4 separate regions of the Homo sapiens genome follow, and regions 1, 3 and 4 are each reported to be linked to region 2. The links are microRNA targets in miRTarBase. Many come from high-throughput screens and were not tested one by one. Region 2 holds a microRNA gene; each other region holds the end of a gene's coding sequence.
Evidence for each region. Region 2 holds the annotated microRNA hsa-miR-619-5p (GCUGGGAUUACAGGCAUGAGCC, at 3,984-4,005, shown strand). A microRNA usually pairs through its seed, bases 2 to 8, with sites in the 3' UTR of a target mRNA and lowers its output. Matches are read on the target gene's strand: a 7mer-m8 pairs with bases 2 to 8, a 7mer-A1 pairs with bases 2 to 7 and ends in A, and an 8mer does both.

Region 1 (7,824 bases), not on the chromosome of region 2:
AAACCCAAGAGACATTTTAAGTATCTGGAAATAGTCCCACTAACTAGAGAGATCTGGGAGTCATTTGTATAGAGATGGCAGTTAAATCCTTGGAGGTAAAGAAGAATCAATAAGGAGAGAATAAAACTAGGGAAGAAAGATAAAATGTAAAACTAGTAATCACCTAAGCAGTGTTGACATGCATCCACATGGACAAGGAAATAAATGAGGAAGAGAAAGCCAGAGGGTCAAGAATAGAACATTACACAATGCTCATAGTTTGGGGTAGAGTATCCCAAAAATACTATGAATGAAAGAGTATTGCCCCTATTTTACAGATGAAAAAGCTGAGGCTGGGGAGGTAATGCGACTTATATAAAGTCATAAAGCAGTGGTGACTCAACCTAAGTTTTCCCAGACTCCACTGTGTCATTTGCTCTGTTCTTCCCAATCTCTGAGAACCAATGGCTAGAAAGAAGTGTACCTATACTGCCAAAGTCACTTCACATAGCATCAAGGGTTTATGTGAGAACCTAGAATTTTAAAGTAAAGGAGATCTAGGAGAAGACAGGAAGAGAGCCAGAGCTTAACCAGCACACACTAAGACTAAAATAACATCATTCTTGGTTCAAGTAGACATATATTGAGTAAGTGAAATCACTACTACATAGGCAGCAAGGGCAGGTGTAGTTGGGGGAAGGAGTATAGGTGCAGATGGTAGGAGGTGAAGGTGAATTGACTCCCTAAATTCTGTGTTTGTCTTCTATTACCCAGAGCCTGATTTTTTTTAGGTATCTTCCTTTTTTAATTTAGTCCTCACCCGGTGAGCTACCTTTGCAACCTTAGCTTAATCTTATCCTGGGAGTGAAACCAAAGTTGATAATTGGGTTTTCAGCTCAAGCCTCAGTGTCTACAAGAGCAGGATTTTAATTCAAATAATTGCTTGGAGGAAAAATTTTCTGTGCCAAATAAGAGTGTATGTTGCAGTACGAAAAGGTAAAAGCATCCTAAAAGCAGAATCCAAACAGCCAACTTTTGGAAAGGTTCATCACCAAACCACACCTAAAAATTCTGAAATAGCCAACCATCAGCAAGGAGTGAACATTGAAAGAATTAGCATCACTTCTTTGGAACAGCAAGGCAAGGAAATTTATTGCACTTTCAGAACTGTCTTTCACTATTTTTCAGTTGCCTTCTTAGTAGAAATGTTGGGTAGGCAAGATGAGATATATGCTTAAGCACTTGCAACCTCTTTTTCTCTTTATTTGATAAACATAAAGTTATTTTCTGTGTATCTTTCACTGAAGACCTAGGCCAATACATTTGCTTTCTGCCCAAACTTAAAGGGAAGAATACCCTAAGGCTAGGATTCCAGACAAGACAGAATGTTGGGCCTACCATAGGGTCATGATTCCAAAGAGACATTCTCAGAGCCACTTTTATTTTTCCAGTTTTCCTGGAAGAAAGCAACCTGCTGTCTGGAATCTGCCTGTTTAACTCAGTGGCATGAGAGCTTGCAGCCTTCTGTGGCAAGGATAACTCACACTGACTGGCTGGCCTCTGTCTTTAGGAATCTAGATTTCACACTTAAGAAAGCACTCTGAATGGCACATAAAAGACACTGTGCTGTGCAGAAACTGTAGGGGATGGCTACTGTCAACTTTTTAATCTCAAAATGCCAAGTATATTATTATGCTGTGAGTATGAGAAAAGTGATTACCTGTACATTCAGCAAGCTGATTCAGAGTGTGCTCTCCCAAAAGGCTGGAGGTCAGAAACAAAAACATTTGTACCATAAATGATGTTGCTTGTTAATCCCAAAGCCTCTTATTTTCTAGATACCTCATTCCTTTTTTAGAAACACACCATCACCTAAAGTACTGTAATAGCTAACTCAATTATGTCCGGTGGAATAACAGCAAAACAGGGTAATTTTGTGGGTAGCAAGATGCAAAACATTCCATTAAAGTCAGATTATGTTGAGCTGTCATCATAGCTATTTAAGTCAAATACCAGCCAGTATTATAGATCAGATAATGCTGATAAATAATCTTAGTTCATAGTATAGCAGGCTGACTATTCTTAGAATGTGAATGTCTGGTTACAAATGCTTCTGTGTTACACATCAGTCTTTAGAGGTTTGCAGGTATCTGTTGCCTGCAGAGATTGAACAAGAAGGAAAACTGCCAGTGAATGAATACCCACCCATATAAGGCACGGGGACATTTGATCATCTTCACGTTTCAACCTTGCAGATTATCCAGAAGGCTCATCATCTCTTGCTGTGGAAACGGAAACATAGCAGTTTTCACATTTCCTGCATCTCTCAGACAGGTCAGTATTCTGAGGGAGACACATACAGTGGCACCTGGACTGCTAAGAAGGCGGCTTGGGAGAAGAACTAGAAAAGAAATAAGTTCTTATCCTGGGTGAAAAAGATTTTAAATTCTTCACTCTTGTAATGCATGCATAAGCAGAAGTTCTATACATAATTTCCCTTGGCAGTGTGCTGAAAAAAAAGATGCCCTTATTCCCTGCAAACTCACACTTATGTCACTTGTGCTGAAAAAAACTCCGGGGATCCAGACACCCAAACATTCCGTTAAGGTTATTTACTCTCATACTGTGAATTATAAGCCTCCTCCTGTTTCATTCCAGGTCTCTGAAATGGTACAGATTACAAATAGCTTTCTTTTGCCTGACTCCATTATGTCAGTTAATAACCTAGTCTTCCCCACTAAGGGCAAAAAAGCATCCTTCCTACACTGTAACCCTCCTAAAATGCTATGAGTTTGTTAAGTAGTGGCAGACAACTTTACACATGGGATTCTCTTTGGCCTGGTGAAAAGCTCGACGACCTTCTTTTTGCAACACTCACAGGTATAAACCCAGTGTAATTAAATATTAAAAGAATGTTAGTAATAGAAATACCATAGAGCTTATAGCTCTGATCGGATGAAACTTCTAATCCTATTCTCATGAAAAAAGCTAGCAATTATTCAGAAGCTTACAATCTGTTCGTGGGTTCCCAGGTCTTCAGTTCTTTCCCTTACAGAAATTCTGCTGTGTACAAGTGTACATATTGTATAAAACTTTGTATATGCCAGCCACTTTGGTGTGTACTTGATATATATGATCTTATTTAATCCTCACATCAACTGTAAGATGAATGTTACTATTCCCATTTTACTTATGAGAAAACTGATATGCAGAGAGGTTAAATCACTTATCCAAGTCTGCATATGTAGTAAGTGGCCAACCTAGGGTTGTAACTCAGGTCTATCTGACCTCAAAGCATGCTATTTCCACCATGGCACTACATTTCAAAATCTGAGTTATTTGTGATGTGTCTTTATTTATTATCAAAGATTAAAAAAGGAGAGAACCAAGTCTGTTTCCTTATCCAAAGCCCTGATGAAATGTTTGATGTTTAGGTAAGACAACTTATATGATAGTAATATCTAGATTTGGGTTATCTGTGGTGCTAATCTGTCTATTTTATTTTAGTATTTTCCTAGGGGAAACACTACTACTTTGGCATGGTAACAGATGTTAAAGGGAAGAAAAATTATCTGGTAAATAAATTTATAAAACCCTATATAAGCAAAATTAGAAAGTTGGCTTTAGTGTAGGAATTCTCAGGGGTTTTACTACACTATTGAGTTTTGTGGCTCACCAAAAGGAGGTTGTAGTGGTCCCTTAAATTTTATTTAACTGTTGGATCCTTTCTTTTTTGTGCCTATCATGGAACCTAGTATTTCGTGCAATACTTATCAGGACCATTAATATGCTAAGGAACTTTGAAATGCATTTTTTATATACTTCCCTAGATAAGCAAAATTGCCTTCAAGCAATGCCTTATGCCTTTTACAGGGCACTCTGTCCAAATATATTAATAAAGTGATTCATTTTGTGGAAATCACAAACTCATATATACATATATATATATTTTTTTTTTGAGATGGAGTCTCACTCTGTTGCCCAGGTTGGAGTGCAGTGGAGTGATCTCGGCTCACTGCAACCTCCACCTCCCAGGTTCAAGTGATTCTTCTGCCTCAGAACCCAAGTAGCTGGGATTACAGGTGTGTGCCACCACGCCCGGCTGCTTTTTGTATTTTTGGTAGAGATGGGGTTTCTCCCTGTTGGCCAGGCTGGTGTCTAACTCCTGACCTCAAGTGATCTGCCCACCTCGGCCTCCCAAAGTGTTGGGATTAGCCACCGTGCCGGGCCTCATATTCTGATAATAATAGAAAAGTACTTGGGAACACAGGAGGGAAGAGTGGGAGAAACCTTTTAAAACTTATTAAGATATGAAGAATTGTTTAAACTGTATGTAGATAATTACTACAGTGATATTTGTAAAAAGCTCCAAACTGAAAACAACCTGAATGTCTATCAGTAGAAGAATGCATTAATACATTATATATGTCCAAGTAATTAGATATTTAATATATATTTCCCTTCATTTTCTTTTGAAGTTTTTTAAATAAAAAAGGATGAAAGAAAACATGAATCCCTTGTGTTTAAAATGTAGAATCAATGCTAATTTTTTCATTTTGCCTCTAAATTTTGTATATAAAAAATTATTGCCATAATTTTTACCCCAAAAATGTACTTATTCTAGATTATATTTTCTTCAAAATGAAAAGACAAACTTGAAAAATATTTGCAAACTATACAACACACAAAATTTAATATGCTTAATTTACAAAGCTCTTGCAAATCAGTAAACAAAAGAAAAACACAACAGTTAGAAAATGGGCAAAGCAACAAAAGAAAGCAATGAGGAAAGAACTCTCTATTCAATTAATGGTGCTGGGATAACTGGCTAGCCATATGCAGAAGACTGAAACTGGACCCTTACTTTTCTCCATATGCAAACATTAACTCAAGATGGATTAAAGACTTAAATGTAAGACTTCAAACTATAAAAATCCTAGAAGCAACCCTAGGAAATACCCTTCTCAACATTGGCCTTGGCAAAGAATTTTTGGCCAAGTCCCCAAAAGCAATTGCAACAGAAACAAAAATTGACAAGTGGGATCTAATTAAACTAAAGAGCTTCTGCACAGCAAAAGAAATTATCAGTAGCAAAAACAATCTACAGAATGGAAGAAAATATTTGCAAACAATGCATCTGACAAAAGTTTAATATCCAGAATCTATAGGGAACTTAACAAGCAAAAAAAAAAAAACAACCCCATTAAAAATGGGCAAAGGACATGATGAACAGACGTTTCTCAAATGAAGACATACAAGCAGCCAACAAACATATGAAAAAAAATGCTCATCATCACTAATCATCAGAGAAATGCAAATCCAAACCGCAATGAGGTACTATCTCACACCAGTCAGAATGGCTATTATTAAAAAGTCAAAAAATAACAGATGCTAGTGAAGCTCCAGAGAAAAGGGTATGCTTATACACTGTTGATGGGAATGTAAATTAGTCCATCCACCGTGGAAAGCAGTTTCAAGATTTCTCAAAAACACTTAGAACTGCCATGCCACCCAGCAACCCCATTACTGGGTATATATACCCAAGGAAAATAAATCCTTCTAACAAAAAGACTTATGTACATATATGTTCATCACAGCACTATTCACAGCAGCAAAGACATGCAATCAACCTAGGTGTCCATCAACAGAGGACTAGACAAAGAAAATGTGGTACATGTATATGATGGATACTACACAGCCATAAAAAATAATGAAATCTTATCCTTTTCTGCAACATGGATGCAGCTGGAGGCCATAATCCTAAGAAAATTAACACAGAAACAGGAAACCAAATAATGCATGTTCTCATTCATAAATGGGAGCTAAACATTGAGTACCCATGGAAACAAAGATGGCAACAATAGACACTGTGGACTACTAGTTGGGGAAGGACAGAAGGGGGTGGGTTGAAAAACTACCTATTGGGTACTATGCTCACTACCTAGGTGATGGGATCTATACCCCAAACCTCAGCATCACACAATATACCACCTAACGAACCTGCACATGTACCCCGAATCTAAAATAAAAGATGAAATTATTTTCAAATTTTGTAAAAAGTAAATGGGCAAAGGATGCAAACAATCAACAAAATAGAAATTAAAATGAAAAATAAACATTAAACTTGTTCAACTTCACTGTAAAGAAATGCAAATTAAAATAACCTAAAATACTAATTTTTATCTATTAAGTCAGCCAATTTTTACAAATTACAGTACCTATTGTAGGCAAGGACATGCTGAAACAGATGTTCTTATACAATGCTGATGTGAGTTTAAATTCATAGATCATTTTTTGAGTGCAACTTGGAAACACGTATAAAAACATTAAAATCTCATACTTTTTTAATTCAAAGAAACTAGCACTTTAATTTTATTCTGCATTTTTGTGCCTTTATACTACAAAAAAACTATATACTTTTATAATATACAATCTGGTGAGTTTTGAAATACGTTTACATCTGTGAAACCATCGCTGCAATCAAAATAATGAATATATCCATCTCTCCCAAAGGTTTTCTTCTGCACTTTTATAAATAACCCCTGCGCCATCACCAGGCAAACACTGATTTATTTCGTTACTATCAGTTTTCATTTTCTAGAATTTTAAACAAGTAGATCTGTACAAATGTATTTTTTTGTTTTGTCTGGCTTCTTCCACTCAACATAATTGAGATTCACCTTTGTTGCTGTGTGTAAGGATAATTGATTTCTTTTTATTGATGAGTAGTATTCCACTGGATATATACATATATTATATATATATACACACACACACACACACACACACACACACTAAAATTTACTTTTCCATCTATTAATGGATATCAGAAGTGTTTCTAGTTTTTTGCTCATACACATAAAGCTGCTATAAACATTTGTGACCAAGACTTTGTGTGAACCTGTGCTTGGGTAAGTACCAAGGAGTAGGATGGCTAAGTCATATGGTAGGCATAGAATTTTTTTTTTAATGAACCATTTTTCTATCCTGTCCCTGTGTGTGGTAGATGCTCACTCTCTCATTCTTTCTAGATAGCTTTATCAGATTAAGGAGGTTCCCTTTTTTTTAAATTATACTTTAACTTCTGGGACACATGTGCAGAACGTGCAGGTTTGATACATAGGTATACATGTGCCATGGTGGTTTGCTGCACCCATCAACCCGTGGTATATCTACATTAGGTATTTCTCCTAATGCTATCCCAAACCTAGCCCTCCAGCCCCCGACAGGCCCCGGTGTGTGATGTTCCCCTCCCTGTGTCCATGTGTTCTCATTGTTCAACTCCCACTTATGAGTGAGAACATGTGGTGTTTGGTTTTCTGTTCCTGTGTTAGTTTGCTGAGAATGATGGTTTCCAGCTTCATCTATGTCCACTTATCTGTGGAAGCTAAAAATTAAAACAATTGAACTCATGGAGTTAGAGAGTAGAATGATGATTACCAGAGGCTGGGAAGGGTAGTGGAGGGGTGAGTGCTGGAGGGGAATTGGGGATTGTTAATGGCTACAAAAAAAAAAAAAAAAAAAAAACAGAAAGAATGAATAAGACCTAGTATTTGCTAGGGCAACAGGGTAACTATAGTCAAAAATAATTTAATTGTACATTTTAAAATAACTATAAAAGTATAACTGGATTGTTGGTAACACAAAGGATAAATGCTTGAGGTGATGGATACCTCATTTACCAAAATGTGATGATTATGCATTGCATGCATGTATCAAAATATCTCATGTAATACATAAATATATATATACCTACTATGTACCCATAAAAATTAAAAATAAAAATAAATTTAATAAGATATGTTATCCAATTTTCCATCATCATAATGTTGTGAATAATATCAC
Region 2 (7,824 bases):
ACTATCACGAGTTTTATTCCCACGGTGAGAGCAAGGTCATGCGCTTATGGGGGTCTAGCTGGGTCAGGGCTATGGTCTGACCCTGCAGTGGAGAAAACCAGCCGGGCTACTGAGAGGAAGTGACCCTCTGCTGGGACTCACCTCCTCCTCCGCAGGGCTTAGCCTGCCGCGTCTGCCCCCAGGAGCAGAGCCATACACAAAGCAGCGTCCGTTTAGAAAGAAAGTACTCGCATCTTTAGAACTCATCTTTGGCATTCATTGTTCTGTGGTCGGATCTCTGGATTTAGACAGCTTATTAGAAAATTCCTGAGATGAGGAGGACATCCAGATGGGTCATGCTGCTTCAAGGAAGGCTGAAAATGAGAAACCAGGATTAATCAAAATAGGATTAATCAAAATCCAGAGGAGCCATTTTCTTTTTTTTTTTCTTTTTTTTGAGACAGTCTTGCTCCGTCACCCAGGCTAGAGTGCAGTGGCACGATCTCGGCTAACTGCAACCTCTGCCTCCTGGGTTCAAGTGATTCTCCTGCCTCAGCCTCTTGGGTAGCTAGGACTATAGGCTTGTACCACCATGCCTGGCGAATTTTTTGTATTTTTAGTAGAGATGGGGTTTCACCATGTTGGCCAGGCTGGTCTTGAATTCCTGACCACAAGCAATCCAACCACCTCGGCCTCCCAAAGTGCTGGGATTACAGGCATGAGCCACTGCGCCCAGCCCCCGAGAGGAGCCATTTTCAAAGCGAACTGAGCGATTGGGCTGGAGGGTGCGGGGGCTCCTGCTTTGTGGGTGTAGTCAGTGTCGGGATGCAGGGTGATGTGCTTATGAGGAAGCCACGCTGGCCAGCCTGCAGTGTGGGGGCAGAATTGCAGTGAGATACAAGAGACTGCCGCATAAATGAGGACATGCCGGGAGAGCCTGCGTGTGGTCAGAGCGGGGCTTCTGGATGGGGCATCGGCCTTGCCACTTAGCTCACTTGCATGTCTGACCCTGGGCCCACCACCTGCCTTCCTCCTCTCAGGGCCCTCCTGAGGCCTCCAGAGAGTCTTGTTCTGTGTACAGTGTCTGGCCCTGGCCTATACCCAGTGGCCATCATTTTCAGTGCCAGCCCTTCCTGCCGCACTTGTTCCCCTCCAAAGACCAATGTTAACCAAGTGACACCTAAGAGGAAAAACCCAGCCTTGACCTGTTTTCCTGCAAGTTCCTCTGAAACCTGTGCCAGGCTTTTATCTGGGAAATATCATTCTTGAGTGCCTTTACTTTTACAGTTTTTTTTTTCTTTCTTTTCTTGAATGGTTACTTTTGAAGCTATTTTTAGAAAGACTTTGTTTCAGAGAAGGCTGTTCAAGGTCCTGTGTTAGGAAATGCCTGGTCTCTCCCTGTGCCCACAGAAGTCATTCCTGGTCCAGGCCTGGCACGCACTTGCCAAGAGTCCTCGAGGCGTGTTTCCCCAAATCTGGGCCCCATCAGAATTCCCACAGGAAGGGGCCTTCAGTGTGGTCTGGAAAGAGCCAGGCTGGCTGCAGCATCTGGAAATCACTTGTCACTTCCCCAGTGGCCAGGCCCACCCGTGCCACGCTGTGTCTGTTGCAGCTGGGAGTCTAGGAGTGGCTCTTTAGGTCTGGAGTCAAGGCCACTGACCTGTTGGCTGCCCCTACAGCAAGAAGGCTCCCTAAGGAACCTAATTCCCAGGCCCTGGGGACTCCTGACCAGGCCCCACCTCATGAGATGGAAGGGAAAAGAACCTCTTGTGAAACAATATGGTAATGGAGGTGGTTTTTACTTAGCTATTGGCTTTTTCCATTCAGCCCATGTGTATTTAGTGCCTAAATATGGGTTCTTTGCCAAATGCCAGGGATTCTGTGTGGAGTCAAAAAGAGTCCTTATCCCTCAGGGGTAATGTGTGTTGTATCTACAGTAGTGCCCTCCAAAAAGGATTTGAAACACCTTACAACATTCATAGAGAACAATAGAATGTAACATTAGTGAGAAAATCGGGACACGAAGAAAGCAGAAGAAAATAAGATGAAGTAAGGGGAAGGTTTGTACATGTAATACATGACATAGCATTGGTATGGTTACCAGAATTTGGCCACAGATCTGACTTTGAGTTTCCTGGTAGTCAAAGCAAAGAGAGAAACAAGACCAATCTCTTGATTCTTGGTGTCCTGAAAATACCAGCAGATCAGTTCCTCGGAAGAACTCTTCCTGATAGATACCTGTGGTGTTCACAAGGAAGCCCAGCATAATGGATGGACAAGCAAGTTGTCTTAACAGGGAGAGCTGATGCTGCATGCCTATCCCACCAATTACCCTGGGTATTTGTGGTCTTAAGAGGTGAGGTCAGCAGCAGCACTTGGTGCCAGAGCTGCTGGCCGCCCCAGCACTGAGACAGGATGCTGAGTCACATCCTGCAGGGCTGCGGTATCCTGGCTTCGCGTGCCCTTCACAATAGGAGGCCTGCACGGGCAGGTCAGCCCCTGCTGTTCCAAACATGTGGTCTCCGAGCAGGAAAATGCTAAAATTAGATCTTACGTGGTCCAGAGCCGTGTATGTGAGAGGCCCTCAAAACCTGGACACACACAGACCAGGAAGACCTGGGAGAGCAGAGCTCTTCATCGTTCTCTTCTGCTCTGGGCACGAAACAGGGCCACTTCTGTTCTGGAAAACACGAAGAGGGCAAACAGTGCTGAGGCAGGGAAGGTCTTGCTTGGTGAGGGTAAAACTATGCAAGAGATGAAAGGGCAAAGTCATGAAATATGCCCATACCAGTGATCAGTAAAATCATCTGAAGCTTTTATTACCTACCGATAAAGAAAAATTACAGGTCGTGTTTTACCAAAATCGAATTAAGTGGAGATTTAAAAAATAACTTTAAAAAATTTGGCTGGGTATGGTGGCTCATGCCTATGATCCCAGCACTTTGGGAGACCGAGGTGGGAGGATCTCTTGAGCCTAGGAGTTCAGTACCAGCCCTGGCAGCATAGTGAGACCCTGTCTCTACAAAAAAATTAAAAAATTAGCTGGGGGTGGCAGCACACACCTGTAGTCCCAGCTACTTGGGTGGTTGAGGTGGAAGGATCGCTTGAGCCTGGGAGGTGGAGGCTGTGCTGCGTGAGCCGTGGTCGTCCCACTGCACTCCAGCCTGGGCGACAGAGTAAGACCCTGTCTCAAAGGAAAAAAAAAAAAATTGGTAACTCGAAAACTTGTAATGCTCCCAACACATACAAATGATTAATACTCAAGGTCATGGATACCCCAGATACTCTGACTTGGTCATTACACAGTTTATGCATGTAACAAATACTTACATGTTTTCCATAAATATGTAAAATACTACGTCGATAAAAAATTCTCGTTAATTTTGAGATAATTTCCAGCTTACATAAGAATTGCAAGTACAGTGAAAAGAACTTTCTTTTTTGAACCATTTGAAAGTAATTTGTCAACCTGCTACTCCATTACCCTTGGAATACAGACCAGGGCATTCTCCCACAGAACCGCAACACAGCCATCCACGCGGGACACTGACTCTGATGCATTCCCACCGTCTAGTCCTCTAACCCCATTCAAGAGTCACCATATGTCCCAGCGTTGTCCTTCATAACAAAAGATCCAATTCAGGACTGCCCATTGCATCTAGTTATCCTGTCTCTTGGCTCTCCTGCAGTCTGGAACCTTCCTCAGTCTTTCTTTGACTCTTGTGGCCTGGATTTTATTTTATTTTTTTATTTTTTGAGTTGGAAACTCACTCTGTCGCCCAAGCTGGAGTGCAGCGGTGATATCTCAGCTCGCTGCAACCTCCACCTCCCGGGTTCAAGCGATTCTTGTGCCTTAGCGCCCCAAGTAGCTGGGATTACGGGCATGCTCCACCACGCTCGGCTAATTTTTGTATTTTTAGTAGAGAATAGGGTGTTGCCATGTTGGCCAGGCTGGTCTCGAACCCCTGACCTCAAGTGATCCGCCCACCTCAGCCTCCCAAAATGCTGGGATTACAGGCATGAGCCACTGCGGTCGACCATGACCTGGACATGTTTGTGCCCAGTACTGTCAGTTTGCAGAGTGTCCCTCAGTGTGAGTGTGTCTGATGTTCTTGTGTGATTCCACCGGGCACGTGTATTTGGCTGGAACATCACCCAAGGGATGCTGCGTCCTCGTTGAATCCCATAAGGTGGCACTTGATTTCCTTTTGTCCCACTATGGTGACATTCACTTTGGTCACTAAGGTGGGTTTTACCAGGCTTTTCCACTGTACAGTTATTCTTTTCCCCTTCATCATTCAGAAGCATTCCTTGGAGAGATACTTTAAAATTATGTTAATATCCTGTCTGCCATCAATGTCCGTTTCAATTCTTTGTATTTTTCTGTTTTATTCAGTGGTTTATAATCTGCTCTTAAATTGTTGACATCCTTGCTCAAATTGTCCTTGTGGACAGTTAGGGCCAGTGGGATCTCATCCAGGCTGGCTTCTGTGTCCCTTTGACATGTCCACATCATTCTTTAAGTGCTTTCTTGCTTTCTGGCAACAGATGCTCCCTACCCACCTGTGGAATCAGTCCTTTATCCAAGGGGCTCTGGTTCCTTTTAGTGGAAAATGAAATTTAGGAGCCAAGCTAGGTCTGCTTATTGCTGTTGGGGTGTTGCTAACCACAGGCCTCTCAATGGGCAGAATTAGGGAACATTTGTATGTACGTGCATACACACACACGTGCATCTATATTTATTTCAATAGGTTGAAAACTATGAGTTCAGACTGGTACCTTCAATTCTGATGCAGCACCTTGGGGTTCATTCTAGTTTTGTCTCTCCATATTCATGACTCCCATTGTCCCTGAAATATTAATAAATATTAACATTATGCATATTATATAAACTTAGGTATTATTTATATTATATAGTATATATTTGTTAATATTGATTATATTAATATTAATATAATCGATTATATTAATATAGTTATAATCGATTATATTAATATAGTTATAATCGATTATATTAATATAGTTATAATCGATTATATTAATATAGTTATAATTGATTATATTAATATAGTTATAATTAATTATATTAATATAGTTATAATTAATTAATATAATATGTATATATGCTATATATCATAAATATATTAATTATAAATATTAATATTAACATTAATGTTTAATATTTCATTCCTTGCCTGTGAGCAGTCTCTGTCTCCCTTGCAGCCCCCTCCCTGCACAGATGCCCTTTGCACCCTGCTTGCCAACAGACACCTCAGCTTGGGATCCCACACCCCCTCCCCAACTCAGAAGCTTGCCCTGCCCTTCCCCGCCAAATGGTTTTTAGGTCTGAATTGTTGGGAGGAGAAGTGGACTTTTTTGAGACTGTTTTCCAGAGGTATCAGTTCAGCTGAAAGCCAGTGCCTAAGAGCAGAGGTTTCAGAGTTACACTCCTGCCTTCCCCTTCCTGCTTCCCGGCTCCTTGGTCTCATGAACTTGGGCAGGTGACTTAACCTCCCTGAGCCTCAGTGTTTGTTTGTTTTGTTTTCTGTTTTTTTGTTTTTTTAAGACGGAGTCTTACTCTGTTGCAGTGCTGTGGCACAATCTCGGCTCACTGCAACCTCCATCTCCTGGGTTCGAGTGATTCTTGTGCCTCCCAATAGCTGGGATTACAGGAGCACGACACCACGCTCGGCTAATTGAGCCTCAGTTCCCGTATGTATAAAACACTGAGAGATGGACACTGGGGAATAAATGAGTTAACATACCTGATGTGCTTAGCATAGCGCTCAACGAAGATGTTATTGGTGTTACATTTATTGATGTCCACTGTTTTCTGGGCACTGAGAGGGATCCTGAGACAGAGAAGTCATAGGCCTAGCTCTCCAGACACTCAAGGTGATGTGGGGAACTTAGCTGCTGTTGTGTTATTTGAAGCACTCAGTTGTCAGGAAGACCTGACCTGACCTCCAGGTGGCTTTAACTCGCACGTGGCATGATGCTGTGAGTCTTATTTGCCAGGTTCAACCTGTGTGTGGGGAGTGCCCAGTGTGCCCAGGGCACAGAGATGACCAGGGTGAGTTACTCCTGGAATACTGACTTCAGAGAAGAGCACAGCTTGGCCAGTGTATCTACCAGCACTTACTTTCAATCTACTGTATGTCAAGCACAGAGGGAGATTTAAAAAGCATGTGCATCCTGGCCCTCACATCCCATTGTGAAGTTAAAATATACTGGCAGGAAGATGGCTTCACCACTAGTTAGTAAATAAGTGGGTCAGGGAACACGATTTGGAAATGAGGGAACTTGGGTTCCTAGGTTCCTATCACTAAGGGTGGTCTTTCCTTCAGTATCCAAGGGGATTGGTTTCAGGACCCCCGCCTTTGCCGAGGATAACAAAATCCATGGATGCTTAAGCACCCGCAGAACCCACTAATTCAAAGAGTTCAGCATCCCTCAAATACTGTATTTTCTGTCTGTAGTTGGTTGAATCCACTGATGAGGAACCCGCGGATACAGAGGACCGACTGTATGTGACCTTGAGCAAGTGACTTAACCCTTAAGCCTCAGTGTCCTCACCTGCACAGTAAGAGGAGGTGCTAGAAGATGTTGAAAGGGAGGAGCTATAGCTCACAGCGAGGGCCACAAGAGAAAGCTTCCTGGAGAAGGCATAAACACTGGAAGACAGGCATGACGTCGGGAGGCAGATGGGAGGAAGGACACCATGAGCCGAGAACCACAGTAGGCTTTATGGGGACAGTGCTATAGCTGGGGATAGAACAGAGAATGCGAAGCATGGAGAACAGGGGGAATAGTGCGAGAGGTAATACAAGAATGGTTTTTTATTCTGAAATACTGTTTTCTAACTATATTCTAAGCCCCTAAGGTCAGGACATAGCAGATGAATGAAATTTAGGTTAACGACATACAATGGCTAATTGTGGCAACCCATAGAGAGTTAGCACAAGAAGTTTGGACTCTAATCAATAGATGATGTCACATGGCTAAAAGTTCTGGGGCTGGGAAAGAATGTCATGAGAGCAATGGTTAGCGGCTGTGCAGAGTGGGCGAGAGGCCAGGGAGGCGCTTGTCCTGATTCTTCTCACCAGGCCAAAAGCTTCCGGAGCTCTGCTGTCCTATACCACAGCTGATAGCCTCATGTAGCTAATTAAACTTAAATTTAAATTAACTAAAATGAAATAAAATGACAAACCCAGTTTCTTGGTCACACTTACTGCATCTTAAGTGTTCAGTCAACACATCTGGCCAGTGGCTCCCATACTAGACAGAGAGTGGGTAGAGAATACAACAGCCCTGGCCTTCAGGGACATTCAGAGAATGCAGCACAGAGCCGGGTGCACCGTGGGGCTGCTTGGATGTCGCCTGGCTCACGGGGGTGAGGAGGGCCAGAACTGGGTGGTGCCTGAGAGACCTGAAAGGAGGGGCCTCTGACAAAGTTAGGACTCGGTGACAAATGACTGTGGTATGGGGCTGCATACCATAGACAGGGCTGAGAACCTGGGACAGTCGGGATAATCTCTTCTCGGAATTTTTGAGCTGTCTCAGAAACATTTCCTTCATGTGCCTGTTATTTCTGGCGTGTTTGGCTGTCTTTGCTGCCATAGCATTTCCCGCACAGTGCAGCCTTTATACCTTCTGCCCTCGTGAAGGGGCTTAGATCCTGGTAGAGCAGATGATGCTTGGAGGAAGATGCATTAGCTCCAGCTTCCATGGGGCCTGAGGGCTCTTGGGGTCATCAGGGAACTATCTTAAAATTTGCTAAACCAAGCCAAGACACATCACTTGCTGTCTTATTTAGGGAGAAAAAAAAAAAAAAGCTTGCTTTTG
Region 3 (7,824 bases), not on the chromosome of region 2:
TGGGAGACCAGCCTGGGCAACATGGTGAAACCCTATCTCTACTAAAAATACGAAAAAAATTAGCCAAGTGTGGCAGCATGTGCCTGTAATCCCAGCTACTCGGGAGGCTGAGGCAGGAGAAAGGCTTGGACCCGGGAGGCAGAGATTGCAATGAGCTGAGATAGAGCCACTGTATTCCAGCCTGGGTGATACAGCGAGACTCCGTCTCAAAAAAAATAAAATAAATAAAATAAAATAAATAGAAGTTTATATGGAAGAGCAAAAGCAAGGAACCAAGAAGAGCCAAGGCTGTTTTGATGATTAACCATGTTGAGGGACTTTTCCTACCACATATCAAGGCATCTTGGCACAAGGATGGATAAAAAAAGCAAGGAGAGCAGAATAGGCCAGAAATACACATATAAAGGATGTGTGATATATGATGGAGGTCATATTATGAAGCTGTGGGGAAAAGATGAACAATTCAATAAATGGTCATGAGACAATTGTTTATCCATATACAAGGAAAAAAACAAGAAAACTGAACTCCCTCCTCTCATCCTACACATACCATACACTCCACAAACCCTAATTCCTGGTGGATTAGTCAAAAGAATGTGAAAAGAACATTTTAAAACTTTTAGAAGAGAACAGGGAAATTTATATTTTATTTCAGAGTACAGAAGGGTTTTTTAAATGAAACCAACAATTCCAAACCACAAAGGAAAACATATTATAATATCAATTACATTAAAATTAAAAATCTCTGTTTATCAATCAACACCAGAAGCAAAGTGATCAGAAAAGCCACAGGCTGAAGAAGATATTTGCAGCACATATAACCTAACTCACAAAGGATCAGATCCATTAGATATAAAGAATTTTCGTGAATCATTTTTTAAAGTTAACTAAATCAGAAAATGAGCAAAAGATCAGAAAAGCAATTCACAGAAAAGGAAGCTTGAATGGCAAATATACATGATATGTTCAGCCTCACGTGGGAATCATTTCACATTCACTAGCTCAGCAAAAACTAAAACATATGGCAAAAAGAGAATTCTTCTGTTTCACTGACAGGAACATAAACAGTTATACCGACTTTGGAGAGCAAACTGACTGTATCTAGCAAAGTTGGATATACCTTATGACCCAGCAAGGCCCAGGCAGAGGATGGTAACAAAACTACTTAAAAGCATTGTTTGCACTAGAAAAAAAAAATTGGATTAATGTCCAACTTAAATGTCCATCAATAGAAAATGATTAAATTGTGGATTATATACACAAGAAAATTCAATAATGAAAATATAGCATTCATCAAATATGAATGAATCGCACAAATTCAATGTCGAGCAAGTTGCCAAGGAGCTTATACAGTATGTATCTTTTATGTTTAAATGTCACAGAGTGGTGAGGGATTCCCTCACATAGAGTTTAAGTGTAAAGAAATGTTTGGGGATAAGAAACGCCAAATTTGGAACTTCTGATTACCTCTGGAGTGATGAGGATGAAGGAGGAAGTGATCAGAGAGAAGTGAGGACACAGATGAGTAACTTATTCTCTATACCTATTTCCCTTATCGTGTTTAAAAGAAAGAGAAAAACCTGTGAGCCCTTGGCACACATTCATACCCCACAATGGTAATAAACAGCAGCGCAGGAGTTAAAGCCACAGCCACTGCCCTTTCTCTTCCCACTGGTCCAGGCTGCCTCTTGTGCTCAGGGAGTCTTCTGTTCATTCTCTTTCGCTACAGATGAAAACTGCAAGGACAAGTACTACAACTGCAACGTGGTGGTCCAGGCAAGACTCTGTGTCTACAACTACTACAAGACCGCCTGCTGTGCCTCCTGCACCCGTGTGGCCAACAGGCAGACGGGCTTCCTGGGGAGCAGATAACACTCCTGCACCCCCATCAGTAGGGCAGCATCACTGCCTTCCCGGGGGCTTCAGCAGTGCGCCTGGCTGGCTGCTGCTCCACCACGGGCCCCCTGGCCCAGGCGCTGCCAACCAACTTAGTCACCACCCCTGCCTCCGGTGAATGCACCCCGTGGTACCCAGGGGCTTTTTACACAAGATGTTTGAAAGCCACAGTCAGTCCTTTAAGCATCACCATGTACTGATGATCCCCTCCTTGGACCTGGCATCTGCTAATGGTGCCCTTTGAAAGTCAAGCAGTGGGAAGTACATGGAGCTCTCAGCCCTGCTCCCATCTGGCACCTTCAAGTCAGCAGATGGGCCACTGACTGAGCACTGCCCCGTCCCTGGTGCTACTGGTCTTTCTAAACTTAGCACCCTGGAGAGTCCAAGGAGGCAGCGCCCCCAACCCAGCGCCCCACTAAGCCTTGCTGACACGCGTGCATCCCTCTGTGACCTCAGCCCAGATGTGCCTGTTTTCATTCTCAAAGACATTAGACTGTTTTCCTGCCCTATGACACAGATAGCTCACATGAATATTGTGCTTTATTTAGCAGGTGTACTCACAGATACTAGCTCCTTAGCAGCTCACAACATCCCAGAATGGGAGGCAGGGGGTGACTCATTATCCCCATTTTACTGACAGGGAAACTGAGGCTCAACTTAAGTAATTGACCTGCCAGGTATATTCACCCATCCAGTGGAAGAGCTGAGTCCCCGCCCCAGTCATCTACCAGTATCCAGCCTGGGGCCTGTACTTAGATGTGAAAGGTGCTGCTTCATTTCTGACCAAGAGACTGAGAAGTTTCCCAGAATGCAAACAAAGCCCAGGCCCCTGAAATCTTTCCGGTCAAGCCTTTATCCCAGCACTCAGTTGTTTTGGATGTCTGTTCCTACTTGCCCTTACCCCCAAAGTTACAGATCCTAGTTACAGGACTCTGCCAGCTTTGTTAAACTGTCCGTGAGACAAGAAAGCCATTGGGGAAACCAGGTGATTGCCTGAAATTCTTACTCCGTTCCAAGTGCTGTTCCTCCCAGGAAATCAAAGGCCAGGGTCCTTATGGCCGTGGAGCCTTCCCGACCACAGAGCCAACTTGTGAAGCACACAGCTCTGCAGCCTGGGCTCTGCCCTGCCTCAGCCGCCTCCCCCACGCTCTTCACCACGTTCCTGGAGAGTCCGGCCAACCTGTCCCAGCCGAAACACTGCTGTATTAGAAAAAGTCTCTTTCTGGTCTTTCTGGTTTTGTTTATGAATTTCCCTCTGTGGCCACAAATTCCTCCCCTCCCCCATGACTCACAGTCCATATGGCCCACCCCCAGACTTGAGCACCAAGCTCTGCATTAATGCAGTTGGCCTGCGACAAGGAGCTGTGGACCCTTCCCCATCTCTTCCAATTCACTTTCCCCAACTATCCAGTTCCAGAGGCCGCAGGCCTGGAAGGATGCAGTGCATATTGAAAGGTGGACCCTCTGAAAACAGTTAAGAGGAATATATGTATGTTTTACCCATTAAGAAAAAATGGCAAGCTAAACAAATGTTAAACTTACAGAAAATTTGTCTTATGGTCCTGAGCATATTTCCCTTTTAGAGCAAGCCTGGATTCTTAGCAAAGTGTTTCCCCCATTTGCTCTTTTAGCTGACAAATCTGCCACTGTGATGATGGTTTGCAGCTTTTGGAAGCAGTATGGCAACCTGGCCTGACATGCTCTTTAGGCTTCCACTAACCTGGGGCTTTCAGAAATTCTATTTGGCCTTTCTGTGGGTAGCTTTCCAGCTTCTCTTCTAGGGAGCCCCAGGCATCATTTCCCAAAAGCATCCCCATCTCCTGATTCTCTTGGAACTCCTACAGATAAGCATCCTGGCAGAGGCCCAGGCTCCCAAACCGACAAAGTGAAAAGAGACCAGAGAGGCCAAGCATATTGACTGGTGCTGTTCAGGGCCTGCTCTTTTCCACTCACCACTTGTTTTGCTGCTTGTCACGAGGAGAGTTGTTCCTGTATGTGGCTGCTCTCAGATCTTTCCAAGCAAGCCAGTCATTTGAAGAGGTTTTCTTTTCATGCTGGAGGGCAGGCTAAGATCAATGAGTGGAAGAGAGAAAGGCTGTTTTAGCTCAAGTTAAAGGAACACCTTCTAGCCATCAAAGCCGCCCAACAGAGGCAAGGGCCACCACACATGAGAGAGCGCTCTGTCCTTAAAGGGAATTCTCTGTTGAGTGGGAGGTGAACACCCTGGTTCTTCCAACTCAGGAATTCTCGTGGCTGGGCTGGGTCAGTGATGGCTTTGTCTCTTTATGTCTAAAGTGCCCTATGGCTGCTGAAGGTTACCTAACCATTCTTTAAAAGGAGAATGACCCTCCATGGGAATGGCCAGCCTGCCAACTGTGCAATTGAAGAAGACCCGATGGATCAACCCCATGTCTCCCTTGGGGAGAAAGTGCATAAACCAGGGGTCTCTTTTTTTTTTTCAACAAACCATTGAGCTGTTCTTGGAGTTCATCTCTGGAGAGGTTATACATTATTAGAAGTTTGATTATTATTATAGTTTGATCAATTTATTTGTCTTAGAGATCCAATTTTTACTAATTCCCTAGTTTTTTATTTCAGCATCTGAATGTCTTTCTCCCTAGCACAGTGCATACAATCAGGGCCTTGGGTATTTCCAGTGATAACTTTCCTTGGAGAGGATCTAAGAAAAGCCCAGATTTCGGTAGCCATCTCCCTCCAAATATGTCTCTTTCTGCTTTCTTAGTGCCCATTATTTCCCCCTCTCCTTTCTTCTGTCACTGCCATCTCCTTCTTGGTCTTCCCATTGTTCTTTAACTGGCCGTAATGTGGAATTGATATTTACATTTTGATACGGTTTTTTTCTTGGCCTGTGTACGGGATTGCCTCATTTCCTGCTCTGAATTTTAAAATTAGATATTAAAGCTGTCATATGGTTTCCTCACAAAAGTCAACAAAGTCCAAACAAAAATAGTTTGCCGTTTTACTTTCATCCATTGAAAAAGGAAATTGTGCCTCTTGCAGCCTAGGCAAAGGACATTTAGTACTATCGATTCTTTCCACCCTCACGATGACTTGCGGTTCTCTCTGTAGAAAAGGGATGGCCTAAGAAATACAACTAAAAAAACAAACAAAAACACCAAAAGAAAAAAAAAAGCCATTTAAAGCCAGCCACTAGAGGGAGTCAGTTCAGTTCCGTAAAGGTATGCTCAGTGCCCGCTGCCTGCAAGCTGTTGGGGACCCCAGGGAGGGCAAGGCAGCCTGTCCCCGCCCCCAGGGAACTAGAACATGACAAGAATTCTCCGCACTGTGCCTACCTGTCCCTTTACCTTACCTCTCTGGCCCAGAGTTCTTGGAGGGTTTTTTCTTTATTTTCTTATGTACTCATCTACTTATTCTCAAAGTATTTAGCATTCAACACTCTTTTTGCTTTAAAAAGAATGGCCTTACAAAGGGACAGAAAAGAGAAGACACGAGCTTGGTGTATTTTCATCAAGTTATGTGGCAGAGAAATCCAGATATTACCAGGACCTGTCTAAACAAATGTTGTGGGTTTTCTTTTCATTCGGATAGCCACTTTATAGTTGGAATATCAATTCTAATGAGGAGGAAGACATAAATATAAGTGGTAAAAAGAAACATGACTTCCCTTAAAACAGGCTGGATAATCTATATCAGCCTTGTGGGTGGAGACTAGTATTTGATCCTTGCCATATAAAACATTTTAATATGGTTTACATGGGAAAATATCGATGGCTTCCTCACAAAATGTATGGGTGACGTGAAGTTGAAGAGCCAATGGCTTGGGTGACACGTGCTGGATCCAAAAAGATCAGGGAGACTAGAATAAAACTTGGATGTTAAAAATTCACCAGGAATCCACATAAAGTACTATATTTGGGCTAAAATGAAAAACTAAATACAAGGTGGGAGAGAGGCAAGAATTTCAGTTGACTAAGCTCAGTGTGAGTCAAAGTGGGATGGAACCATGCAAAAACAAAACCCACAGACATGCAGGCTACGTGAGGAGAAAACAGTGGTGAGGATCACATCACATTGTGTTTGCATTTGCCGGAACCATACTTTAAGAAGAAAACCGATCATCTATAATAACATCAGTTTATCAATGCCCCGTCCTGATGAAGTGTGCAGACTCTCAGAAACAGCAGGAAGGACTTCATGAGAACCCTCAGGCTGGAGAAGGCACTAGGGCACAAGGAGAGCTCTCCTAGGACCAGGACCAAGAAGCTACAGGCAGGCACAGTTTAGCTCCTGCAGAGACCCAGCTTTTCACAAGTTGGAGCCTTCCAGAGATAGAGGGACTGTGGTAGGTGGTGACCCACCCATCACTGGAGGTGGAAGCAGAGGCCGTTTGCCAGGGATGCTGGAGAGGGGATTCAAGCATCTGGCTGGGCAACGTGATGCTCAGGGCCGTCTCCACTCAGGGCTTAGGGGAGTCTGTGAGTAGAAGAGCTTTAGGTGATTTGTTTGGTGGGGGAAGGCAAGTACACAGCTATGCACTTTCCGTTTCTGACTTTTGCCACCCTGTCAGCCATGGGGAGCCCACTGTGGGACTGAAACCCTGAGCTGAATGCGGCCTCATGTCTCAGAGAAACACTGGCAAGTTGGTCAGAGCCGCCGTCTGCATCGAGGCGTAGCTGAGCGGCAGGATGGGGGGCTGCCTGCCCAGGGTCTCTCACCGTGGTGTAAGCAGAGCCATGGCTTGCCTAGGACCCTATAGATACCATCACTCTTTCTCAGCTCGACTGGAGTTTCTGCACCTTTGCAGGGGCAAAGTAACTCCCTGCACCCTGAACCACCCCCCATTCCTGTTCATTTCAGCAGATAATGATGGAGGGGGGGGGTGTCCATCGTGCTGAGGGTGTGACCGCAAGAGGGTGAAAACTTCCAGCCAACTTTCTCAGTCCTTTCTCTTGCGAGAGGGAAGCCACCTGCTATACAAACTAATACCCCCTGCCTTGACCCCTTCCCCACGACTCAGTTGACAGAAGGATATACTTTGTTATAACTTATTATTTTGTTCTCTGTAAATACAAGATGTTTATAGGAAATATGTATTCTGAACTCTATCTGCAGAATGAGTCACTACACCAAAATAGTTCTATTATTTAGAATGTGTTAATTTTAAAGGGACCTGATAGGTATTTATTTACATATGCGATCCACATTTGTGTGAAAGCATGTGATCATACTAACCCAGCCTCCTGGAATGTCGCTGTACGATGATTGATGTCTTTTTCTCAGTCCATAGTTACAATTGTTTAGTATGCTAATCAGTCCAGTTCCCTGAGGTTTAAGATCAAATATAAATTACTCTGCTTTTCGACTCATTCAGGTAGCATTGTACCTGAACCTGATTGCTACTTTTTCATCTTAAATATTATATTTCCTCATCTAATCTGCCTTCCCCTCATCCACAGACATTTGGAGAAGGAAATGGGAGGGTGTCTGTTATCCCTTTCTCTTTGCTTTGTCCCCGTTGTTAGACTGGCAGCGTCAGTTGCTCGGTGGGCTTGGTTAGAGCCGTGGGTGAGGCAGGTGGCTGGCGGGGACAGGGAGAGGCTGAGAGGGAAGTGGTGGCATTTACTGCTCTGACACTTCCACTGTCCCTGCTGGGGATGCTGGGGCCAAGGCCTGTGGGGCCTGTGAACTGCACAGCCAGGAGCAAGGAACCCACTAAATACTCCGTCACCTCCATGTCCCCTCTACAGTGTTAAATTATTACATAAGCAGGTGAAAGGTAGAAGGCGAATTATGTGAGTAAATATGGTCTGTTTTCTCTTCAGCAAAAATGACTATTTTTGTGTGTGACTAATTTATTTTTATTATTGTAAAGATACAATAAACCGGTTGAAATATCTGCTTTGTTGACAAGCGTGTGCTTTCTCTGGCCTTATTCGCGTTCTGTTC
Region 4 (7,492 bases), not on the chromosome of region 2:
CTGTAGCGGCAGGGGATTTTCTTACTCTACAGCATGCATCCATTCAGGGTTTGCCAGTCTCCTCCTAAGCGACTGACATGCATTTTTTCCGCTAATTCTTATCATCGCTCTATGCAACATAATATTCCCGACCCCACTTCACAGGAGGAAACTGAGATTACATAACCTGCCCGGGGGTAAGGGTGGTGGTGCAGCTTGGATTCCAAATCCCGCAGGCAGCTTGCCTCCCAGTCCCCGATTTCCTGGCCCCAGGGTCCGCTCTAACCGGTCTCTGTTGCGGCTCAGTGGAAGACCTGGAGCGGAACAACGGCTCCCTGGACCGGCCCTACTACATGTCCAAGAGCCTTCTAAAGATTCTGGGCAAGAAGAACGAGGCGCCCCCGGACAACAAGAAGAGGAAGAAGTGACAGCTCCGGCCCTGATCCAGGACTGCACCCCACCCCCACCGTCCAGCCATCCAACCTCACTTCGCCTTACAGGTCTCCATTTTGTGGTAAAAAAAGGTTTTAGGCCAGGCGCCGTGGCTCACGCCTGTAATCCAACACTTTGAGAGGCTGAGGCGGGCGGATCACCTGAGTCAGGAGTTCGAGACCAGCCTGGCCAACATGGTGAAACCTCCGTCTCTATTAAAAATACAAAAATTAGCCGAGAGTGGTGGCATGCACCTGTCATCCCAGCTACTCGGGAGGCTGAGGCAGGAGAATCGCTTGAACCCGGGAGGCAGAGGTTGCAGTGAGCCGAGATCGCGCCACTGCACTCCAACCTGGGTGACAGACTCTGTCTCCAAAACAAAACAAACAAACAAAAAGATTTTATTAAAGATATTTTGTTAACTCAGTAAATCTGTGACTCATTCTCTCCACGACGACAGGCGGCCTTTTTTTTTCCGCGCCCGGCTCTTTAAAATCGGCCCCGCCCCTGTGACGTGTCCTGGTGCCGCGGCCAATCAAAAAGCCCAATAAGGATGGTGCCAGTCCCTTCTTCACCCCAGCCAGTCCGCTTCCCGTTCGGGTCACGCGCTCCGGGCCTCCAAGAGGGCCTCCAAGAGGGCCAATCGGAAGGGCAAGCTTCGAGATGCTGCGTGATCACGTGGGAGGAGATGAGCTACTTGAAGACCAATTAGAGTCCGGGAAGCGCGGCGGGGCCTCCAGACCGGGGCGGGCTTAAGGGTGACATCTGCGCTTTAAAGGGTCCGGGTCAGCTGACTCCCGACTCTGTGGAGTCTAGCTGCCAGGGTCGCGGCAGCTGCGGGGAGAGATGACTGGGGAGCGACCCAGCACGGCGCTCCCGGACAGACGCTGGGGGCCGCGGATTCTGGGCTTCTGGGGAGGCTGTAGGGTTTGGGTGTTTGCCGCGATCTTCCTGCTGCTGTCTCTGGCAGCCTCCTGGTCCAAGGCTGAGAACGACTTCGGTCTGGTGAGTCACCCTTTGCATAGCCCCATCCCCGACCCGCGCAGGTGATCGACACCTAGTGTCCCCCGGAACGCGGGCGGCTGAGCCGACTTTCCGCGACAGGACCCTTTTCTTTCTCCCAGACCCCGTTTCCTCCTACCGCTCCCAGCCCCTCTCCCTCTCCGGGTCCCCGTCCTTCTCCTCATTCGAGCCCCTTCCTCTTTTGGGGTCCCCTTCCCTCCCTGAAGGCGCCTTCTCCTTTCGTAGACCCTCCCCTGCTCCGAGCCTCCAGCTTCGCTCCAAACTCCCCTTCGTGTTCCTCTTTCTTGTTCTGGGACCCCATCCCCTACTCGGGATCCCCATTAGATCCTCCCTCTCCCATCGGAACGTGGGTTCCTAAAACCCCCAAGACAAGTTTGTCTTTGTTGACCCTTCCTCCTCCCATGACAGGTGCAGCCGCTGGTGACCATGGAGCAACTGCTGTGGGTGAGCGGGAGACAGATCGGCTCAGTGGACACCTTCCGCATCCCGCTCATCACAGCCACTCCGCGGGGCACTCTTCTCGCCTTTGCTGAGGCGAGGAAAATGTCCTCATCCGATGAGGGGGCCAAGTTCATCGCCCTGCGGAGGTCCATGGACCAGGGTATAAAGATGTCTGGGTGAAAGAGCCGGTGCTAGGTTGGATGGGTGGGCAGCCCAATGAGCCCAAGGGCCCTGAGGATAGGGGAACTTAGAGGGTTGGTTGCCTGAGTCCCTGAGGGGTAGAGGGAACCCGAGAAGGGCAAGTGTCTAGGACAGTGATCTGGAAATTGGGATCACCAAGGAGTTGGACATTCACTTAGCAAACATTTATTGGGTACTATATACCTATACCAGGCACTATTTTAGGTTTCATGAATATAGCCACGAACAAAACAGATCAAAAATCTCTGCCCTCAGGATTTAAATTGTACTGGAAGGAGACAGACAAGCATAATAAACAAGTAAACTTTTTTGTCTGTTGCAAGGTGATAAATGCAATGGAGAAAAATAAAACAGGACAAGAGGTATAGATAGTGCAAGTGTTGGATTGCACCCTGGGACCATCGGAAGGCCTGAGGTCCCTAGCAGAAGGTGGGAAATTAACGGGAAGTGGTAGAAAGGGTACCTGCAGAGTGCTCACTCTGGGTTTCTTCCTCCAATTTTTTTCAGGCAGCACATGGTCTCCTACAGCGTTCATTGTCAATGATGGGGATGTCCCCGATGGGCTGAACCTTGGGGCAGTAGTGAGCGATGTTGAGACAGGAGTAGTATTTCTTTTCTACTCCCTTTGTGCTCACAAGGCCGGCTGCCAGGTGGCCTCTACCATGTTGGTATGGAGCAAGGATGATGGTGTTTCCTGGAGCACACCCCGGAATCTCTCCCTGGATATTGGCACTGAAGTGTTTGCCCCTGGACCGGGCTCTGGTATTCAGGTCTCTGTCCTAGGAGATAGGTGGAGGGGGCTGCCTTGTGGAGAGTCTGAGGGATACCCCCAAATGGACTCCTTTCCAAGGGGAAGATTCTCTGAAGTCAGATTTTCTGGCTTGGGTGGGATTCCTTGAAAGACAGGGCATCCTGGTAGGAACACATTATCAGGAGAAGAGGGAACTCTGCCATTGGCTTCCCATTTGGCATTGTCAACAGGACTGCGTTAGTCCATGCAATACCCTCATGCAAAGTAGAAAAAGGCACTGCCTCTTTGGACAGACACAAGCCTGTGCCAGGGTGCACAGCTTGGCGAGTGAGCACAGGTTGGGTTTAAGCTCTCATGCACCCTGTGGCTGGGCCCCTGGTGCACATGTCCAGCTGTACACCCTGGGAGAGCTTCTTAATTCAAACAGGGTGTGTATTTATGGGATCTGACTGGAACCCTCAGTGAGCAAGGGCTGAACTCAAGGGGACCATACATGTGATTGCATTTGGGAAGTGGTGGGTTCTCTGTCCCTGCCTCTGAGCCCCTAGAGTCTCCTTCTGTGACACCCAGTTCCCTTTCCCACAGAAACAGCGGGAGCCACGGAAGGGCCGCCTCATCGTGTGTGGCCATGGGACGCTGGAGCGGGACGGAGTCTTCTGTCTCCTCAGCGATGATCATGGTGCCTCCTGGCGCTACGGAAGTGGGGTCAGCGGCATCCCCTACGGTCAGCCCAAGCAGGAAAATGATTTCAATCCTGATGAATGCCAGGTCAGGAGTCCATGAGATGTTCCCTACCCATTTGACCCTCCCTGCCCTCCAGAACATCATTTCACGCACAGACCCAGGGTCTGACTGCTCCACTCAGTGCCACACACCCTTGCTCCCCTCGGGGACAGGGCATTTTCCCTGTTCCCTCCCTGAGGTCCTGTCCTCTCCCCTCAGCCCTATGAGCTCCCAGATGGCTCAGTCGTCATCAATGCCCGAAACCAGAACAACTACCACTGCCACTGCCGAATTGTCCTCCGCAGCTATGATGCCTGTGATACACTAAGGCCCCGTGATGTGACCTTCGACCCTGAGCTCGTGGACCCTGTGGTAGCTGCAGGAGCTGTAGTCACCAGCTCCGGCATTGTCTTCTTCTCCAACCCAGCACATCCAGAGTTCCGTGAGTGCCTCATGGGTGGGGTCAGCAGGGAGAGCCCTGTGTCTAGACAAGGCCTGGGCAGAGACCCTCTCTCCCTGACTCTCCTGCTCTCCCCAGGAGTGAACCTGACCCTGCGATGGAGCTTCAGCAATGGTACCTCATGGCGGAAAGAGACAGTCCAGCTATGGCCAGGCCCCAGTGGCTATTCATCCCTGGCAACCCTGGAGGGCAGCATGGATGGAGAGGAGCAGGCCCCCCAGCTCTACGTCCTGTATGAGAAAGGCCGGAACCACTACACAGAGAGCATCTCCGTGGCCAAAATCAGTGTCTATGGGACACTCTGAGCTGTGCCACTGCCACAGGGGTATTCTGCCTTCAGGACTCTGCCTTCAGGAACACGGGTCTGTAGAGGGTCTGCTGGAGACGCCTGAAAGACAGTTCCATCTTCCTTTAGACTCCAGCCTTGGCAAAATCACCTTCCCTTTACCAGGGAAATCACTTCCTTTAGGACTGAAAGCTAGGCGTCCTCTCCCACAAAAAAGTCCTGCCCTCATCTGAGAATACTGTCTTTCCATATGGCTAAGTGTGGCCCCACCACCCTCTCTGCCCTCCCGGGACATTGATTGGTCCTGTCTTGGGCAGGTCTAGTGAGCTGTAGAATTGAATCAATGTGAACTCAGGGAACTGGGGAAGGCTGAGCCTCCTCTTTGGTGTTGCGGTAAGATAACCGACAGGGCTGGTGAAAGTCCCCAGATGGCAGGATATTTGGTTTCAGAGTAAGGACTAGGTGCACCACCATGACTGACTATCAATCAAAATGTTTGTAACTTAAAATTTTTAATGAAGGATAATGAATATTTGTAGAGTCTCTATGGTTCTGTCAATGCACATCTTCGTGTCTGTTTTCCTCATGTATCCTTGTGAGCCTGGGTGAGTTCTGGGGAGAGACCTGATGTGCGTACTGCCTGTGAAAATCTGACTTTGGCAAATCAAATCCTCTTTTCCTTTTGACATGCCCTCTTTTTTTGTTGTTGCTTTTTTTGAGACAGGGCTCGCTCTGTCACCCAGGCTGGAGTGCAGTTGCACAATCACGGCTCACTGAAGCCTCAACCTCCTGGGCTCAAGTGATCCTCACGTCTCAGCCTCCGGAGTAGTTGGGACTACAGGTCAGTGACACCATGCCTGGTTAATTTTTTTAATTTTTATTTTCAGTAGAGACAAGGTTGCGCTATGTTGCCCAGGCTGGTATGGAACTCCTGTGCTTAAGCAATCCTCATGCCTCAGCTTCCCAAAGTGCTGAGGTTACAGCTATGAGCCACCGCACCCAGCCTACATTCCTTCTTATCACCGAGAAACAGGTTGATCTTCACAGGTGTAATGAGTATGAAGGGAGTGCCATAAGATATTTTTTATTTTTTATTTATTTATTTTTTAATTTAATTTTTTTTTTTTTGAGATGGAGTCTTGCTCTGGCACCCAGGCTAGAGTGCAGTGGTGCGATCTCGGCTCACTGCAACCTCTGCCTCCCAGGTTCAAGCGATTCTTCTGCCTCAGCTTCCCGAATAGCTGGGATTACAGGTGCCCACCACCACACCCGGCTAATTTTTGTATTTTTAGTAGAGACGGAGTTTCACCATGTTGGCCAGGCTGGTCTCAAACTCCTGGCCTCAGGTGATCCACCCGCCTCGGCCTCCCAAAGTGTTGTGATTACAAGCATGAGCCATGGTGCCGGCGGGCTGATTTTTTTAATTTTTAGTAGAGACAAAGTCTCACTATATTGCCTAGGTTGGTCTCAAACTGCTGAGCTCAAGCAATCTGCCGGCCATGTTCTCTCAAAGTGCTGGGATTACAGGCTTGAGCCCCTGCACCCAGCCTGTAAGATATTTTAAAATCCACACTTGGCCAAGCGTGGTGGCTCACACATATAATCCCAGCACTTTGGGAGGCCAAGGTGGGCGGATCACAAGGTCAGGAGTTCGAGACCAGCCTGGCCAATATGGTGAAATCCCATCTCTACTAAAAATACAAAAACTAGCCAGGCGTGTTGGCTTACACTTATAGTCCCAGCTACTCAGGTGGCTGAGGCAGGAGAATCACTTGAACCAGGAGGCGGAGTTTGCAGTGAGCTGAGATCACAGCACTGCACACCAGCCTCGGCAACAGAGTGAGACTCCGTCTGAAAAAAAAAAAATCCACGCTGTTTTATATTTCTAACATGGGGTAGGATACCATCCTCCATGAAATAGGGTGCAAGTGTGTGAAATGCAGATGGGAATCCTGTCCCAGCTAGCCTGACAGAGAAGTGAGCACTTCCTATGGCAAATTATGTAAGAAAATATTCCCCAGGCAGATGCTTATGAAAAGAATCTGTTCAGCCTGCAGGTAAGTGGGAGAGCCCTTGCTCAAAAAAAAAAAGAAAAAGAAATAGTGGAAGACAAAAAGGAAAGGACACTATGAATGTCTGACCCATGAACTACTACCTGTTAGAAACAGAAGTGCTGGGAGGCTTGAGAGACAGACACTACCTTCCTGGCTAGGTGTGGTGGCTCAGATCTGTAATGCTAGCACTTCGGGAGACCAAGGCAGGATGATCAAATTAAAGGGCATCCTGGGCAACATGGCAATACCCCATGTCTAAAAAATTTAAAAATTAGCCAAGCATGGTAACGCACACCTATAGTCCTAGCTACATGGGAGGATGGCTTGATCTCTTTGACCCCAGGAGTTCGAGGCAGTAGTGAGCTATGATTGCACCACTGCACACCAACCTAGGTGACAGAGTGAGACCTCATCTCCAAAAAACCAAACCAAAACAAAAAACCTTCAAGAAAGAAAAAAAGCTTGACCTTCCCTCCCTCACTCTTTACAGACCCATGGAATCTGAAGCTCTGGTGTTGGAGCCACCAGGCATTAACAAGCCTTCTGGGTGATTCGTAATACGTTTAAGTTTGAAAACCAGGGTCAGAACTTTTAAACAAGTGCAAGTGTCCAGCTAAAATGAATTATATGTATGTCAAAGTTGCAGAAATAGTTAAAGAACCTTTTTTTTCCAGCTTTTTTTTTTTCTTTTAATACACAGGGAAGGGTCAGGTGCAGTGGCTCACGCCTGTAATCCCAGCACTTTGGGAGGCCGAGGTGGGCGGATCACAAGGTCAGGGGTTCTAGACCAGCCTGGCCAACATGGTAAAACCCCATCTCTACTAAAAATACAAATATTAGCCATATGTGGTGGCACACGCCTGTAGTCCCAGCTACTCGGGAGCCTGAGGCAGGAGACTCACTTGAACCTGGGAGGCAGAGGTTGCAGTGAGCCGAGATTATGCCACTGCCCTCCAGCCTGGGCGACAGAGCAAGACTTCATCTTAAAAAAAAAAAAAATACACAGGAAAGATTGGGACAAGTGGCAGGAGACTGAAAGGGGAAAGAGCTTGTTTGTACTAATGGGACAAAGTGGGCCGACTCTGGGCACACTGCTTATGAGTTAGCTCTACTCTGTGAGGAAATTTTTTTTTTTTTTTTGA

Region 1: the mRNA of ZDHHC15 is a reported target of hsa-miR-619-5p. The part of its 3' UTR that is shown has no 7-base or 8-base seed match.
Region 3: the mRNA of THSD4 is a reported target of hsa-miR-619-5p. Seed matches in the 3' UTR shown: 8mer at 2,486-2,493, 7mer-A1 at 2,698-2,704 and 7mer-m8 at 2,751-2,757.
Region 4: the mRNA of SLC44A4 is a reported target of hsa-miR-619-5p. Seed matches in the 3' UTR shown: 7mer-m8 at 671-677.

Annotation. Positions count from the first base shown.
Region 1 is chrX:75,373,609-75,381,432 of GRCh38, reverse strand. It overlaps ZDHHC15 (zDHHC palmitoyltransferase 15), which reads left to right. Exons shown (of 12, transcript NM_144969.3): 11 at 2,235-2,313. The coding sequence ends at 2,281. Among named protein-coding and RNA genes, the nearest start is that of UPRT, 100 kb to the right of the region's middle.
Region 2 is chr12:108,833,143-108,840,966 of GRCh38, reverse strand. MIR619 (microRNA 619) reads left to right here and starts at 3,961; the gene lies at 3,961-4,059. All of the region lies in intron 2 of SSH1 (slingshot protein phosphatase 1), which reads left to right. RefSeq lists enhancers at 1,311-1,912, 2,472-2,601, 1,906-3,105.
Region 3 is chr15:71,775,503-71,783,326 of GRCh38, forward strand. It overlaps THSD4 (thrombospondin type 1 domain containing 4), which reads left to right. Exons shown (of 18, transcript NM_024817.3): 18 at 1,730-7,824. The coding sequence ends at 1,872. Among named protein-coding and RNA genes, the nearest start is that of NR2E3, 31 kb to the right of the region's middle. RefSeq lists an enhancer at 6,458-6,547.
Region 4 is chr6:31,856,542-31,864,033 of GRCh38, reverse strand. It overlaps SLC44A4 (solute carrier family 44 member 4), which reads left to right. Exons shown (of 21, transcript NM_025257.3): 21 at 286-842. The coding sequence ends at 407. It overlaps NEU1 (neuraminidase 1), which reads left to right and starts at 1,213. Exons shown (of 6, transcript NM_000434.4): 1 at 1,213-1,416; 2 at 1,843-2,035; 3 at 2,584-2,846; 4 at 3,413-3,595; 5 at 3,770-3,992; 6 at 4,089-6,375. The coding sequence starts at 1,258. The coding sequence ends at 4,315. RefSeq lists enhancers at 1-406, 407-1,032.